Linked DNA regions of Homo sapiens: region 2 is linked to region 1. The links come from fine-mapping of genetic effects on gene expression. Tissue or cell type: aorta. Region 1 holds a variant in brackets; the other region holds the start of a gene. All regions are shown on one strand. Distances are from middle to middle.

What was found. PIP is the estimated chance that this variant, and not a neighbour inherited with it, causes the effect.
Region 2: it holds the start of MATN3, and the variant in region 1 is fine-mapped to the expression of MATN3 in aorta (GTEx, PIP above 0.99).

Annotation. Positions count from the first base shown.
Region 1 is chr2:19,926,455-19,934,562 of GRCh38, forward strand. It overlaps WDR35 (WD repeat domain 35), which reads right to left. Exons shown (of 27, transcript NM_020779.4): 22 at 6,947-7,057; 23 at 5,829-5,993; 24 at 4,815-4,955; 25 at 3,942-4,098. Among named protein-coding and RNA genes, the nearest start is that of TTC32, 29 kb to the left of the region's middle. RefSeq lists an enhancer at 7,024-7,073. The variant A/C (reference allele first, on the strand shown) is at 4,572.
Region 2 is chr2:20,009,080-20,017,187 of GRCh38, forward strand. MATN3 (matrilin 3) reads right to left here and starts at 3,589. Exons shown (of 8, transcript NM_002381.5): 1 at 3,330-3,589. The coding sequence starts at 3,552. RefSeq lists an enhancer at 2,693-3,305.

The DNA of each region.
Region 1 (8,108 bases):
TGATTTGCCTATTAATGTGATATCTGATTCTTCATACGTGGTTCATTCTACACAGTTAATTGAAAATGCTCAGTTATGATTTCATACAGATGAACAACTGATGACAAAAACAAAAAAGAGGGAGAGACAGGGATTATGGGACAGCCCATACACAATTGAATCTAGCATTATTAACTTTAAATTTTTTGAGCCTGCCCAAATGCCAGATGTTATCAGCAGCTGAACAGCATCTACAGAAACCAGCTGCAAAGACAGAAGCAGAACAACTAGTTTGGTGGAGAGATCTGATAACAAAAAGTTGGGAAATAGGTAAAATAATAACTTGGGGTAGAGGTTATGCTTGTGTTTCTCCAGGCCAAAATCAACAGCCGATTTGGATACCATCAAGACACCTGAAACCTTATCATGAGCCAGATGCCAAGGAAGAGATTCCGGGAGGATCTCGAGGACCCCCCCCACCCTGTTGCAGCCATTTCGAGACTGACACTGAGGAGGACCCCAGCTGTCGCAAGCAACACCCGTTGAACACAGTCAACTAACTGGGGACAGATCAAGAAGCTGTCACAGATGGCGGAAGAAAACCTGAGGAAAGTGGGACAACCAGTCACAATGAGTAATTTAATGGTAGCTATGATAGCTGTTATCACCACTGCTATGAGTATTCCTTCAGTAAGGGCTGACACAGGGAACAATTACACTTATTGGGCATATTTATCAATCTTGGCTGGCAATAATGCCTAGATGTAATCACTCTATGATGCTGTTACACAGCTTTCTGATCTCAGTATTTACCATAATAAATCTGCTCCTATAATTGAGGCATACCGCCCTCAAAAACCTATTTGTAAACAAAATTGAACCTGGCCAGAAAAAAATGAACGTACTTGTTTAGGAAGATTGCATTGCAGAACAGGCAGAGGTGCTGCACAATGATTCCTATGGAATCATTATTAATTGGTCCCCTAAGGGGATGTTTAGCTTGAATTGCACTTCTCAGTCTGTGTGCCATGCCATACTTATGTTCAGATGGTCTCAACAAAATGTTCAGGTGGTAGATATAATAAGAAGTACGGCAAGAGTTCCTATTATCTAGAACCATGGTGGTATAGTGGCACCTCAACCTCAAATGATATGGCCCGCTCTAGGAGCTAAACATTAAGGATTTGTGGAAACTATTAATAGCTCTTAACAAGATCAAAATTTGGGAAAGAATAAAAAAGCGTCTAGAAGGACACTCTACAAACTTGTTTTTGGATATAGCAAAATTAAAAGAACAAATATTCAAAGCATCCCAGGGACACCTGACCTTAATGCCAAGAACTGGAGTGCTTAAAGGAGCTGCAGACAGATTAGCAGCTAGTAATCCATTAAAATGGATAAAAACACTTGGAAGCCCTGTAATTTCAATGATGATTGTGCTTTTAATCTGTGTTGTTTGTCTTTCTATAGTCTGCAGATGTGGATCCTGACTCCTGCAAGAAGTAGCTCACCATGACAAAGCTGTCCTTGCCTTTATAGATTTGCAAATCAAAGAAGGGGGACATGTTGGGAACAGGCACCCCTCAAAATCTGGCCATAAACTGGCCCCAAAACTGGCCATAAACAAAATCTCAGCAGCACTGTGACAGGTTCATGATGGCCATAACACCCACTCTGGAAGGTTGTGGTTTACTGGAATGAGGGCAAGGAACACCTGGCCCGCCCAGGGCAGAAAACTGCTTAAAGGAGTTCTTAAACCACAACCAGTAGCATGAGCAATCTGTGCCTTAAGGACATGCTCCTGCTGCAGATAACTAGCCAGACCCATCCCTTTATTTCAGCCCATCCCTTCGTTTCCCATAAGGGATACTTTTAGTTAATCGAATATCTATAGAAACAAGGCTAATGACTGGCTTGCTGTTAATAAATACGTGGGTAAATCTCTGTTCGGGGCTCTCAGCTCTGAAGGTTGTGAGACCCCTGATTTCCCACTTCACACCTCTATATTTCTGTGTGTGTGTCTTTAATTCCTCTAGCGCCGCTTGGTTAGGGTCTCCCTGACTGAGCTGGTCTCGGCACATTAAGGTAGAATTTCAAATCTGTTAAGAAAGAATAAACCTAATATATGGTTTCAGGATAACTTAGATGTTATAATAAACATAATATTTAACAAACTTGAAGGAATTCCTAAGCATGATTCCTAAGAGAAAAATATGAAGTAAAAGACTGACAGACATGACTATATAAAAAAAACTATTAATATCATCATCACAGCTACCACTTATTGAGGGCTCACAATGTCCAGGCAGCATAATAAGTGAGTTTTCTTTTCATGAACTTCTCAATCATTACAATAACTCTATGAGGAAGATACTATTTTTTTTTTTTTTTGAGACGGAGTCTCGCTCTGTCACCCAGGCTGGAGTGCAGCGGTGCGATCTCGGCTCACTGCAAGCTCCGCCTCCCAGGTTCACACCATTCTCCTGCTTCAGCCTCCCAAGTAGCTGGGACTACAGGCACCTGCCACTACACCCAGCTGATTTTTTTGTATTTTTAGTAAAGACAGGGTTTCACCGTGTTAGCCGGGATGCTCTCGATCTCCTGACCTTGTGATCCACCCGCCTCAGCCTCCCAAAGTGCTGGGATTACAGGCATGAGCCACTGCACCCGGCTGAGGAAGATACTATTATCCTTTCTTTACACAAAGAGAAACTGAAGCTTAGAAAGGATCAAGTAACTATAACTTATAAATGCTAGGGAAAATCAATATATATGAAAGACGATTATTACATATGGTCTCTAAAGAGCTCTTATAAAAATAATTAAAAATAAAAATCATCACTATAGAATTCCAGAAATATTCAAATAAAAGAATTTCTCTAAAAGTTTTCTTTTAATATCATGCCATTGGAATACAGATTCATGATGTATTAGGATTAGAGTGTGATGTGCATATGGTGATGATGTGAGCAGCAAATGGATGATGTCACCAATATGACAGAGGAAGGGTGGGGTGTCATGACAGTGCTTGCCATGGCCAAGCTGAAAGACCAGTAATGATTTAGTCATTCATATGCTTTGGCTTACAACATAATTATCATAATTACACTCTCTGGAGTTCATATATCTAAATTCTAGAATATTGTTATTGTTAAGAAGAAATTGAGATCCTGATATTACATGTAAATAATCTTCTATCAATTACAGTATACAAATACCATGGAATATTAGGTAGAATGTTTATATAGATCTCTGTTTAAGAATGAGGAAAGAACTATAATATACTGCTGAGGGAAAAAACCATGCTCCTGCATGTAGAAACATCTAAAAGGAAGTTTACCCAAACCTTAGCAATGATTACCTCTGAGTTATAGGATTATTTTACAAATTGTTAGATTATTTTACTTTTTCTTCATATTTTTCTGTTTTGGTTGAAATTATTAGCTAAGTATCACTTTTATAAAACACAAGATAAATGCTATAGCAATGTATATGTAAAATATGGAAATATTTTAAAACGTGGTTTTCAAAAAGTACATAAAAGTATGCCATGTTATACTCCCGATATTGTAAAGAATAAAATTATCTGAATGTATGTATTAAATATATTTTATGTATTTAAATATATGTATTAAATATATTTAATAGATATATGTATATATATTTTTCTCCAAAAAATATGAACTTGGCTATGAAGTATTTAACTTTGAATGGCTAGCCATATGAATGCTATACACATTCTTTTTGCTTATCTCAAATTTCTGACATTTCTGTGAACTATGTGTTTTCTCTGTATTAAAAAAAACTTCAAAAATGGGAATGCATAAGACTCAAACATAGGAAAATAAATCCATAGGAAAAAATGTTATTGAAGGCCACATAAAGGCAAATTGAAGAAGCTAGCCCTTCATACTCAATTTATAATTTTCAGACATACTATACACATTAGGTGACATGCCCACCTGTCTTCAGTGCAGTGTCCACACATCCCTCATAGAGCTGCCTCTGTGCAAGTATAAAGAAGTGGTAAGCCTCTGCCCCTCTCCATGCATTATCTGTGAAACGATCTGTTGTAGACAGAACTTCTTCTTCCAGCAAACCAGCCAAGGCAGAAGTGGCCTACGAGTAAAGTCAGCCCACACTTTCCGTCAGCACAAACGCACACACAGTGTCAACTCCCAAATAACAACAGTCATTAAAGTATCTAAATGAGCAGATTTTATCATTACAAAACTATGATTACAGACTTTTTTTTTTAAGAGATGAGGTATTACTCTGTCACCCAAGCTGGAATGCAGCTGCGTGGTCATAGCTCACTGCAGTCTCAAACTCATGGACTCAAGTGATCCTCCCACCTAAGCCTCCCTAGTCACTGAGATCACTGGTGTGAGCACTGCACCCAAAACAGATTTAATTTTTTATTATAATTCATAGTTTGTTAAACTGGTATGAATAAATTTTAAAATATAACTAATTAGATTCTAAGTTAATCAGACATTCATTTACGCATTACAACAATATATCTAGGAAAGTTTTAAAACTCACTGATTAGAAAGGAAGATTTCCCAGGTAAGTAAAATTTTTTAACAAAT[A/C]AGACATTAAAGCAAAGACTACAGATTAGTATTACAGAAAAACAATTTCAATATTTCTAGGTAGAAATTTCTGAATTTGAATACTAATTCTAAATCAGTCATTCTTTTTCTTCATATCATTTAAGGAAACAAATGCAGACATGCAAATTAAATGACCTATCCATAAAAGAAGTTTAATAGTTTCTTTTTTTTTTTTTCTTAAACACTTCCAATGATGTAATGTTATTTAACGTGCTACTTTACCTCTGAACTTTTTCCTTTAACTTTTCCTCGCTGGGCATTCTTCATCTGTTCATGGTATTGCTCTATAAGTAAGGCTGACAGTACATAGAGCTTCTTGACACGTAAAGGTTTACTTCCTTTCTTTGCCTCTTCATCTGCAATCTTAAACATTTTTCAAAATTGAGGGAAGTTACTTCTTATCTATATTTGTACAAATACAATCATTTCCAAAACTAACAAATTTGATTCCCTAAAAAAGGAGGAAAATCAGTAAGATGGAATATAAATATCACCTATTTAAGATAAATATTTTAAAACCTATCTTCTTTTCATTAGTACCTATTCGTATTTAGTTCTTTCCTTAGTATTTAGCCCTAGGAGTTGGAATTCAGATCACTCTTAGAAAATGAGAGGTGCTGTTAGATAACTAAATCAGAATAAAGAAAGTATTGATGAAATGCTGGTATTTTCCATAATACAGAGATTTTTAAAATAATGTTCCAAGTACACAAAGATATGATAGTGTTAACATGGTGCATCCTTCAGAAGCTGAAACTTATTTAAATGATTTTAAGAGATATTTTTCCTTTTTCATTAAATCAAATGGGAATAGAATAGAAGGTAAAATGTGTATACATTAATACTGTACTAATTATCTTCCCTCCAAATAAATATTATGTAAAGCGTAATATTTAAAACTTGTACATTTAAAAGAACTTAAAACTCTATTATCAACAAAATTTAATTCCCTGTTGTAGAAATTTGTACTTTGCAGTCTCAGTAATTTCTTTAACTCTTTGTTAACTCCAGTATTCAACATACAATTGTTTAGGTATTAGTAAGTTGCTAATATTAATAAACATCTTTGTTGGTAAAAGGCAATAATACTAAAATAATGTATACAGAAGCAATAAAACCAGAGTGGTTTTGCTGTAATAAATATTTGTTTCCAAAGAAAATGGAGAATATGCTCTTTCATATATTAAAATATTGTGACTGGAACAAATCAACTATTCACCAAGATTTTTACATTACCTTAAACATCAGTTTAGCTGCATCAAAAAAGTAATTGGCTTTCCGATAGAGTTCTATGGCATCAAGAGTTTTATTCTTTTCCAGTAAATGAGATGCATACCTAGCTAACAGAGATCCAATTTCTTTCATACTATGATTTTTAGCCAATTCAACAGCTTTGTTCCACTAGGAGAAAAATTACACCATTCAGTCACCCAAGTATTTACAGTCACATATATCATAAAATTCACACAAGAAAGCTTTAAGTTTATAGTAAAAACACTATTTCAAAATTAAAAACTGGTATGTTTTAAAAATAGCATTTAAAATCACAGCAACATAAGTCCTATAAGCATAAGTCAAAATGATTAAATGATCTCTAAGACTCTGATTTGCTTAAGAAATACATGTGAAAATGAAAGTTTCAAAGTTTATAATCATATTAATCTTGTAATTCTAATCTTACAAAACTTCAAGCAAGAAAGATACACTTGTTTATATGTTATAGTAAAACAAAATATGCAATTTCAGTTGTGAAAATGTCCTATCAGATTTGACATTTAAAAATTATTTTTATAAAGCAAAAGGGGTTTTAAAAAATAAGAAAAATATTAAAAGAATACATTAATAGTCAATAGTTTCTATAATAACGCTGTACTTTTAGTTTAATTTCAGCTCTTAAAAATATCAAATGTATGTTTTCTATAAAGGAAAAGGAAAACAGATTTGCCAAAATAAATATTGATAAAGTAACTCAATTCCTTCCTCAGGCAATGACCAACCATTAACTGGTCCTTCTTTGGAAACAAAACCCAACCCTAACAAAATGCAGAAAATTATGAAATTACTTCCAGACAAAAACTTGCCAGACTAAAAGCACAAGGTTTGTTCATGCTCCCATACTGAGCTGGTTATAAGTGGGTCACCCCTCATGGTAGCACTTTAAGAGGTAAGTGCAACTTTCTTCATCCTCAATTAAGAGAATACCCGCCTGGCTCCTTTCATAAAATTCACGTCAGGCTCTCCAACCCTTACATTGGCAATAATCTTTAAAAGATCACTAGGGTGACTTTAACCTTGCTTTGACTTAAAAATTCCTAAGACAATAAGCTGCACAGACAGAAAGTTTCAGTTCCTACTTGGTTGAGATGTACGCAGGTATCTACTGCTGCCTTTGGTTGACTACATTTCAAAAATGCAGTCACTGCTTGTTCACACATTCCAACTCTGACAAACATTTGTGCTATTTCCTGTACAAACAAAACAATACTATCAGATTTCACAGACCAAGGAAATTACTTATATTTTAATTTAACAAAACTCCGTAGGGACGTATGAGTATTAAATTTACTGGTAGTTACAGATTTTTCTTGTAAACAGACGCAAGGGCAGAGGGTACAAATGAGAATGGATGCTAAGGCATCACTTCTATAAATCCAGAGCTTCACTGGCTCAGGCTGTGGATCTGATTTTTAACGAGGCCCTGAAGACACTGCACTCCTTTCTTATCTCAGTTCAGTAGCTAGTATACAGAAATGTCAAGCTCCAAAACAAATCCCCCACCAGTGGGTGAAAAAAGCCTTTATATCAATTGGTGGTATACTCAGTGCTAATTATTAACTAGAGACTTAAGGGAAATCTCACATTCACAGAGCCCTCAAATACCTCTATAAAGAAATGTCCTAGAGAAGTCTGCCATTAATCAGTTCAGGAAGCTAGACCCAAAACAGAGCTCTCTTGGAAAGTGGTGGCAGCGAGGAAGAACCACCACCACCACCACCACCACCACCACCACCACCACCACCACCACCACAAAAAAAAATCCTACTTGTTCAGCTGCACTGGCCATTTTCAGAACATCATTTTTTTTCTTTCAGAATATCTAATTAGCCAGAGGTTTTCCCTCCCCAACCCTTCTACAATATGTTTGGAAGTATGAAAGTATATTTTATATCCAACTTTTAAAACAATGCTTATATTTTTCTGATTATAAGGGAATACATTCTATCTGTAAAAAAAATTACAAAACATGAAAAAGTGAAATTACTCATAATCTTATCATTCATAAGAAACCTCTCTCAATACTCTGGTGCAATTTCTTAACATCTTTGTCCTTTGAATATATATGTATATGTTTGTGTTGTACACAATCACACAATACACAATTTTGTATCCTGTATTTCCTACTTAAATATTATGTACACCTTCCCATATTATTAAAAATTCTTCTATAACTCTATTTAAAATTTATAATACTAAAATTTTTACTATTTTAGTTATTTAATTATCATTATAGTTATA
Region 2 (8,108 bases), 83 kb after region 1:
CCAGGCATGGTGGCAGGCACCTGTAGTCCCAGCTGCTTAGGGGGCTGAGGCAGGAGGATCGCTTAAAGCTAGAGAGTCAAGGCTGCAGTGAGCCACAATCACACCACTGCACTCCAGCCTGGATGATAGAATGAGACCCAGTCTCTAAAAGCCAAAAAAAAAAAAAAGGAATCAAAATTCTTTCTTTCTTTAAAAAAAAAAAAAACAACTCCAGCAGCCATAAAAAAGAATGAGTCCATGTCCTTTGCAGGGACATGGATGAAGCTGGAAGCCGTCATTCTCAGCAAACTGACACAGGAACAGAAAACCAGACACCACATGTTCTCACTCATAAGTGGGAGTTGAACAATGAGAACTCATGGACATAGGGAGGGGAACATCACACACCAGCGCCTGTCAGGGGGTGGGGGGCAAGAGGAGGGAGAGCATTAGGACAAATACCTAATCTATGTGGGGCTTAAAACCTAGATGATGGGTTGATGGGTGCAGCAAACCACCAGCGCACATGTATCCCTATGTAACAAACCTGCACATTCTGCACATGTATCCCAGAACTTAAAGTAAAATAATAATAATTTTTTAAAAAGATCTGAATAGGAAACATTTGTCATCTATTGTCTCTAAGGGTAGCCACTATAAGACTTCAAAAGAACATTGGTCTTTACAGTCTTTTATCTTAACCTGAACATTTCCTTTCTATGGATCCCAGGTCTTTAGGCAAATGCAACCAATTATCAACCAGAAAATATTTAAACTTACCTATAGCCTGGAAGCCCCTCACCACCACCGGCTTTGAGTTGTCCCACCTTTTAGGACCAAACCAATGTATTTCTTAAATGTATTTGATTGATGTCTCATACCTCCTTAAATTGTATAAAAACAAGCTGCACCCTGACCATCTTGAGCACATGTACTCAGGACCTCTTGAGGGCTGTGTCACAGACCATGGTCACTCATGTTTGTCTCAGAATAAATCTCTTCAAATACTAAAAAAAAAAAAAAAAAAAAAAACCTCCAGAATTTTACTTCATTCCTGGAAAGTCCCATAGATCTAGAGCTAGGAAGAAGAATTATGTTGAAAATCTTTCCTGGAGATGGGTCAAAGTATTTTTGTATAATTAGAAAAAGAAAAGGTGGGGGTAACATGAAGATATGAACTCTGTAATTGACAGTGCTTTCACCAGCACCCAAATGGTGTCCTTATAAATATCATGGCTATGTTCTTATAACTAAACGTGCATGATTCTTTCCTTCTCCACTTGGTTATTCACACCGAATCCTCTATTCGGGGTGTGGTATGCAGAATAATGTCCCCCGCCAAAGACGTCCACGTCCTAATTCCAGAGACATGTTACTTTTACGTGGCAAAGAGCAGAGACTTTGCAGGTGTGATTAAGTCAAAGAGCTCTACACAAGAGGTTATCCTGGATTATTCAGTGAGTCAATGTAATTATAAAGTAGAAGAGGGAGGCAGATGAAAGAAATGTGAGTAACTCAATGGGAGAAGGCCTCAACCTGCTTTAGCTGGCTCTGAAAATGGAAGAAAAAGGCCATAAGCCAAGGAACTCAGCAGCCTTCATGCGGTGGAAAGGGAAGGGAAATGCAGTCTCCCCTAGAGCCTCCCAAAAGGAACACAGCCCTGCCGACACCTTCATCTTAGCCCAGTGAGACCAGGGTCAGACTTCTGACCCACAGAACTCTCAGGTAATAAATGTGTGTTGTCTTAAGGCACTAAATTCACAGTAATTTGTTACAGTGGCCATAGAAAACTAATACCTGAGGCTTGACCATGGTGGCAGAAAATTCTGTGAACATCTGGTTCCTTCCTGACTGGTACTCCGCATCAATCATTAGTTGTTTTTGAATCTCACTCCCATTTACTAAATAGCAGCAATTTGATTCCCAAGAACAAAGAAAGAATCTGAATCTCCTAAAATGTTCCCATACTCATAATACCACTGAGTCCTTACAGTCCTGCTAGAAATAAAAATCCATAGCGAAGCTTAGCAATTTCTGGTTGCTAAAAGGAGATAATTTGGAACAGGGTGGAATCTCGCATTTATTAATGGGTTATCATTCATGATCAGGTTCGGACTCTAGGTAATGAAAGACCAGTAAAGCTTAGGGGGACATGGCCACCTGGTGCTGAATCTCTCCTTCCTCTTCCAGTCCCATCCCAGAGGGAGGCAGGTCAGGACTAGAGTAAGATTAACTTCCAGAAGAAAGGCTTTCCCTCAATTCCCGGCCTGGAGCAACCAGCCACCAGCTGAATCTAGCCCTGTGGACCCCGGTACCTCCTGCCTTAGCAGCAATGCTTTTGCCATTTCAAATCTGCCACTTCAAATACGGGGACTGAGTATTTGAGTCAGGAAAGAGTCCCTTGAGCTCCTTCTCAGCTTATCCAGAAAGATGCAGAAGGGGATAGACAATTGAAATCAGCCTGAGGCATGCAGCGTGGCTGGCCAAATGAGACTGCATACCCAGAAATGGCCTGGCACAGACTCTTTTTAGCAAGACTGAAGCTGCGCTTTTTGGAAATGAAGATACAATCTTATGTAAACCATATTAAGAGGTTGGTAGGCTGGGGCAGTGGAAAGAGACCTTGCTTGGGATTTCGGAGCCCTGAATTTTATTGTGGCCTCTGATACTGATTCACAGAGTCCCTTCAACTTGATATGCCTCAGTTTCCCTTCATGTGCTGTCAGGGGCTGTGTCAGACGACCTGCCCGCTTCGCTGCACTATGAGCTTTGCTCTGCTTCAGGAATCAATTGCTGACCAAAAAGAGAAATAGAATTGTTCGCCAAAGACCCAGAGTGTCTTGATCCTGGGGTATCCTACGGCTCCTCGGATCTCCTCCTGGTCTCACACCCGCATCCCTTACCTTCCAGTCTGAGGCAGCCTGAGGACTGTGGGAGGGGAGGAAAGATCACGCCCTGATATTGGATGGAGATGGAGAGATTCCAAGAGAACTAACAGCAGAGTCTCAGGAAGGGTTTGCTCACTGAATGGAGAGGTCAGGACTGGGACGGAGCTTAGCAGCAGCCGCTGGGCAGCAGCCCCTGCGCTCCCCAGCTGCCCTGTGCTCCTGGCCGAATCACAGGGGAGTGAGAGCTTCAGGAGACCCACATCTCTAGCCTGGACACATGAGTGATATTGGGCATCTCCCTCCCCTTCTCTGGACCTCAGTTTCCCCCACAGGATTCATCCGGGAGGGGCCTCTTTCCCCCGCACCACGGTCGGCCTGAGGCCGGGATGAAGCGCGCTTGGTGGATGCCCTGGGCTTCTCCTCGTTCGATGCTCACGCGTCCCTCCCGCCGCCCGCCTGTACCTGCACCGCGGGCGCGGCCAGGCTCGCTGGTCCCGGAAGCGGGCGCGCCGTCGGGAGCCGCAGGAGAGGGGCGGCGTCCAGGGCTGCCCCCGGGACCTCGGGTCTCCAGCCTCCGGAAGCCCGGGCGGGCCACGGGGTCGGGGGCGGCGGAGGGCAGCAGCAGCAGCGGCCAGAGCAGCAGGAGGAGTCCCGGGAGGCGGCGCGCGGGGGCCGGGCGCGGCATGGTGGGCTCCGTGGGCCTGGTGGTGTCCGTCGGGGGCCAGGAGCCCACGCGAGGCTCGGATTTAAAGGTCCCGCGGCCTCGGGCCCCGCCCCGCCCCGGGGCCTCGAGCGCCAGGCCGGCCCGGCGAACCCCGCCCAAGGCCAACAAGGAGCCTTGTCCGCGCATTCCAGCGGCAGAAACGGAATGTCTGGGCGAGGCGGCCAGCGGCGCGGTGGTCACCTCCCGCCCCTGCCCTAAGCCCCGAGCCGGCTGCAACTGGGTGGGCTCGGCTGCTGTCGCAACCTCCGTCCTCCCAGTAACACCGGGGCAGGGGGGGCAGCCATCCGCGGCTGCAGCCTGCCCGGCCCTCCACTCTCCCTCCCACCCCAGCGGGGCCTGCGCCCCAGGTACGGGATGGGGACCCCTGGGCTCTGCTTTCCCTTCTGCCACTGGTTTGCCCGACTGGGGCTGAAGATGAAACCCTGCTCCTAGCTCTACATTCCTTTCCTCAGCCAAGTAACCCAAGTTTTGCTGTGGGCTCTTGTTTAAAAAAAAAAAAAGAAAGAAAAGGCCTCACAGATTCTAGGGGCATGAATAGAAACGCTTTCATCCGAGCTTCAAATATCCACAAACATTTGAACTTATATTACCGGGAATAGAAAGTCAAACATACATTCCCCAGAGAGCCCCGTTAGCTGGAAGGACAGCCTGTACCAACACAGGCTTCAAAGGCTCTCCCGAGGCCCCATTTCCTCTCCGGAAGAGTTAGCATGGTACAGGGCTGGAGGCTGCCAGGGGACCCCCATGGAACTCACTGTCTGTGAGAAGGAGATTTGCATAAATGTGGTGTCTGTCTACGGGAATGTGGTGGATTTAGGAAAGAGATACTGACTGCCTGCGGAGACCAGGAAGACTTCTAAAACCAGGTGACATTTGAGCTGCGTCTTAAAACAATGGGCGCGAGTTCCAACAGAGCCTATCTGGTCGTCCTATTTCACTATTTTCCCTCTACAAGTGATCCTCCTCACACGATCCTAAACCTCACTTCTCATATTTGTACCCCATGCTGGTAGCAGCATTATACACAATAGCCAAGAGGCGGAAACAACCCAAGTGTCTCTCTTTGTGTGAATGGAAAAGCAAAATGCAGTATCTACGTACAATGGAATACTGTTCAGCCTTAAAAGGGAGGAAATTTTGGCAGATGCTACAAAATGGATGAACCTTGAGAGTATTATGTTAAGTGAAATAAGCTAGTCACAAAAAGACAAATACTGTATGATTCCATTTACATGGGGAATCTAGAGTAGTCAAATTCATAGAGACAGAAAGAATGGTGGTTAACAGGAGCTGAGGGGAAGTGGGGATGGGGAGTTGTATAATGTATCAATGACATTGGGCAGTGATAGTCACACTGAGGGAAAAGGTCACTCAACTCCCACTGAGAACTCACCAATTTAGAAGGACCTTAGAAGAAACGAGAAGTTTGTAATAATGGGAAGAGGACACTAAGAAGTTTGAAAGAAACTATGCCAAGAAGAGGAGGGATTGATAAATACAGTATTTGCAAGCTCTGGTGGACATTTGTCTTTCGTCTTGCTTTTAGAATGATCCCCAAAGCCTTTGAACCCTACATTAGTCAGGGTTCTTGAGAGAAACAAAACCAATAAATTTTATATACACATACATATAGAGAGAGGGTGGGGGGAGTAATTGAGATTATGAGGGATTGGTTCATGCGATTATGAAGGCTGAGAAGTCCCACAGTCTGCTGTCTGCAAGCTGGGGGCCCAGGAAAGCCAGTGGTGTAATCCAGTCCAAGCCTGAAGGCCCAAGAGCAGGAGAGCCAATGACATAAGGCCCAATCTGAGTCCAGAGACCCAAGAACCAGGAATGCTGATGTCCAAGGACAGGAGAAGCTGGTTGGCCCAGCTCCAGCAGAGAACACATTTGCCTTCCACTGTCTTTTTGCTCCATTCAAGCCCTCAACAGATTGGATGATGCCCACTCCACTCACATAGATGAAGGTGATCTTCTTTGCTCAGTCTACCGATTCAAATGCTAATCTCTTCCAGAAACATCCTCACAGACACACCCAGAAATAATATTTAATAGCTATCTGGGCATCCATTAGCCCAGTCAAGATGACACATTAAAATTCACCATCACAAATACCTTCCTAAATTTAGGGATTTCCAACTTCATGAGTCAGCACCTCCCCAAGTTGACTCCAAGAACTTGCTTCCCCAGCATCTCTTGCAGCTAGGATGTACATAAGTGGCCCAGTCTTCATCGATCATATGTGGTGTCTATGCCAAGCAGCAGTGACTCTAGGTCTCCCATATAGCAAACCTGCAGTATAATTTTGGGAATGGTTGATGACTGTGTGGCTTCCAAGCTTGATTCTTGAACCTTTCCAGAAATTATTTGAACCACTTAATATCCAGGGCTACATATGGATGGTGTAGGTGTACATTGCACAAGTTCACAGGGGCACTATTCACATTCGTAGTCAACACATATTGATTATAACATTTGGAATTCCACTTCAACTGGGGAGTGATGTTTCTTGAGGAATGGTTGGCTTTTCCATTTGTACTTTGAGCTAGTAGTGGGACAAATAATACCCTTAATATATACTTTTTCTGTTTCTTTATTATTATTATTATAAACAGGGTCTCATTCTGTCACCCAGGCTGGAGTGCAATGGTGTCATCAGAGCTCACTGCAACCTCAACTTTCTGGGCTCAAGCAATCCTCCAGGTTCAAGCAATCCTCCTGCCTCAGCCTCCCGAGTTGCTGGGACCACAGGTGTGCACCACCACGCCCAACTAATTTTTTTTTATTCTTTATAGAGACAGGGTCTAATTATGTTGCCCAGGCTGATCTTGAACTCCTGGGCTCAAGTGATCCTCCCACCTCAGCTTGCCAAAGTGCTAGGATTATACATGTGAGCCACCATGCTTAGCCTCTTTTTCAGCTCATTCTAGCAGGAATGGGTTCTGTTTGCACCAACAATGTGGATATATTAATCTTGTGATTTTTTTTTTCTATTGCATACCACTGGGGGGCACTGTTTTAAAGAGCTCAAAATAAAAATCTCAGCTCCCTGGTGAATGTCCCTACACATTCGTTGTCAGTATCTCAGACAATTTCAGATGCTGGTGTATGAAAGTCATGCCATCTTGAATGAAATAGAAATTGTCTGATAAGTTTGTATCTCCAGAGTTCACACTCCAGGGCGGTTGTCTTACATCTGATGTCCAAAGATTGTCAAATAAAACAAAGGTAGCTCTTCTGACAGAGGAATTCAGGTGGCTGTAGGGCCTTCTTGCATGTCACCAACTCAACTGGCTGCTGGACCAGGTGGTAACTTTGCTTTCAGGTGTTTACTTGGGAATATTGCAAAAGCTATATTTCTCTACCACTGCATATTATCTTATACTACTTTGTCAAGATAAAGACTAGAATAACTTTTTGATAACCTAAAGACTTAGGTCATAAAAAAGCCAAACAGAGGTTTTTTGAACTATTCAAAAATCTAAGAAATACAACAAAGATTTATATATACACTTTACATTGTTTTTAGAATTTTATTATTTTTAAAGTAGGTAATACATGCACTTGGTCTAAACTTTGAAAAGAAAAAAGAAACCGACCAAATGTTAGGATTACTTTCAACTTTGCATTACTTCTTACAAGCAATAAATTCAACATCTTGGGAGAATTATTTTTCTCACAACTAGGATTTCAGCAGTAGAATAAGACTTGCAAGCTACTTAAGGAACCACTTGTCTCCTGCTTTGCTGCCCTTAATGTGTGGATTTTGTTCCCAAGGCTGCTGGAACTCCAAGTATCATGTTGGCATTCCAGGATGAAGGAAGAGGGAAGACCAAAGGCCAAAGAGCAAAGGACCAAAAGATATTTGCTGCTGACATCTCATGGCCACACCTGGCCACAAGGGGGTCTTGAAAGGTAAGTTCTTAGCTTTTTTGATCCACAGTGAAGAAGGCAAAGGAAAACATGCATTGGAATGGGAGTTGACAGCTAACCTGTGGCATATACTACAGGTATATGGTGAAAAGGAACTATCCCAACCACCCTTGCCAATAACACCACTGTTGCCAATGTCTTGAATGTGCATAGACTTGTAGGTGTAAACATTGAAAAATACGTGTGCAGACATCCACTGTTCTATTGAAAGAAGACATATGTTTCCAACTTTAGACCAAAAAATCTACCCCCAAACAAGTTGAAAAGTCCTTTGATTCCATGGATGCATTGGAGAAAATGTTGTCAAAAGATGTCCCAAGACTTCTTAAATCTGATAAATGACAGACCATGTACTTGGAGAAAAAAATTTGTTTTCTTTTGTGTTCAAAACTGTCTCAATCCCAAGGTGGAAGTCTTTTCCAGAAAGTATAGAACTCTTTACCTATGTTTTTTGCAATTTACCCACCTGAAAAAAACAAGTAATTATGAAAAATGAATATGTTCAATAGCCTACAAGTTGTATTGCCATCTCTGTTTTTTAATTGCCACAGGGATTAAGATAGTACAAATTACGGATTGGTACT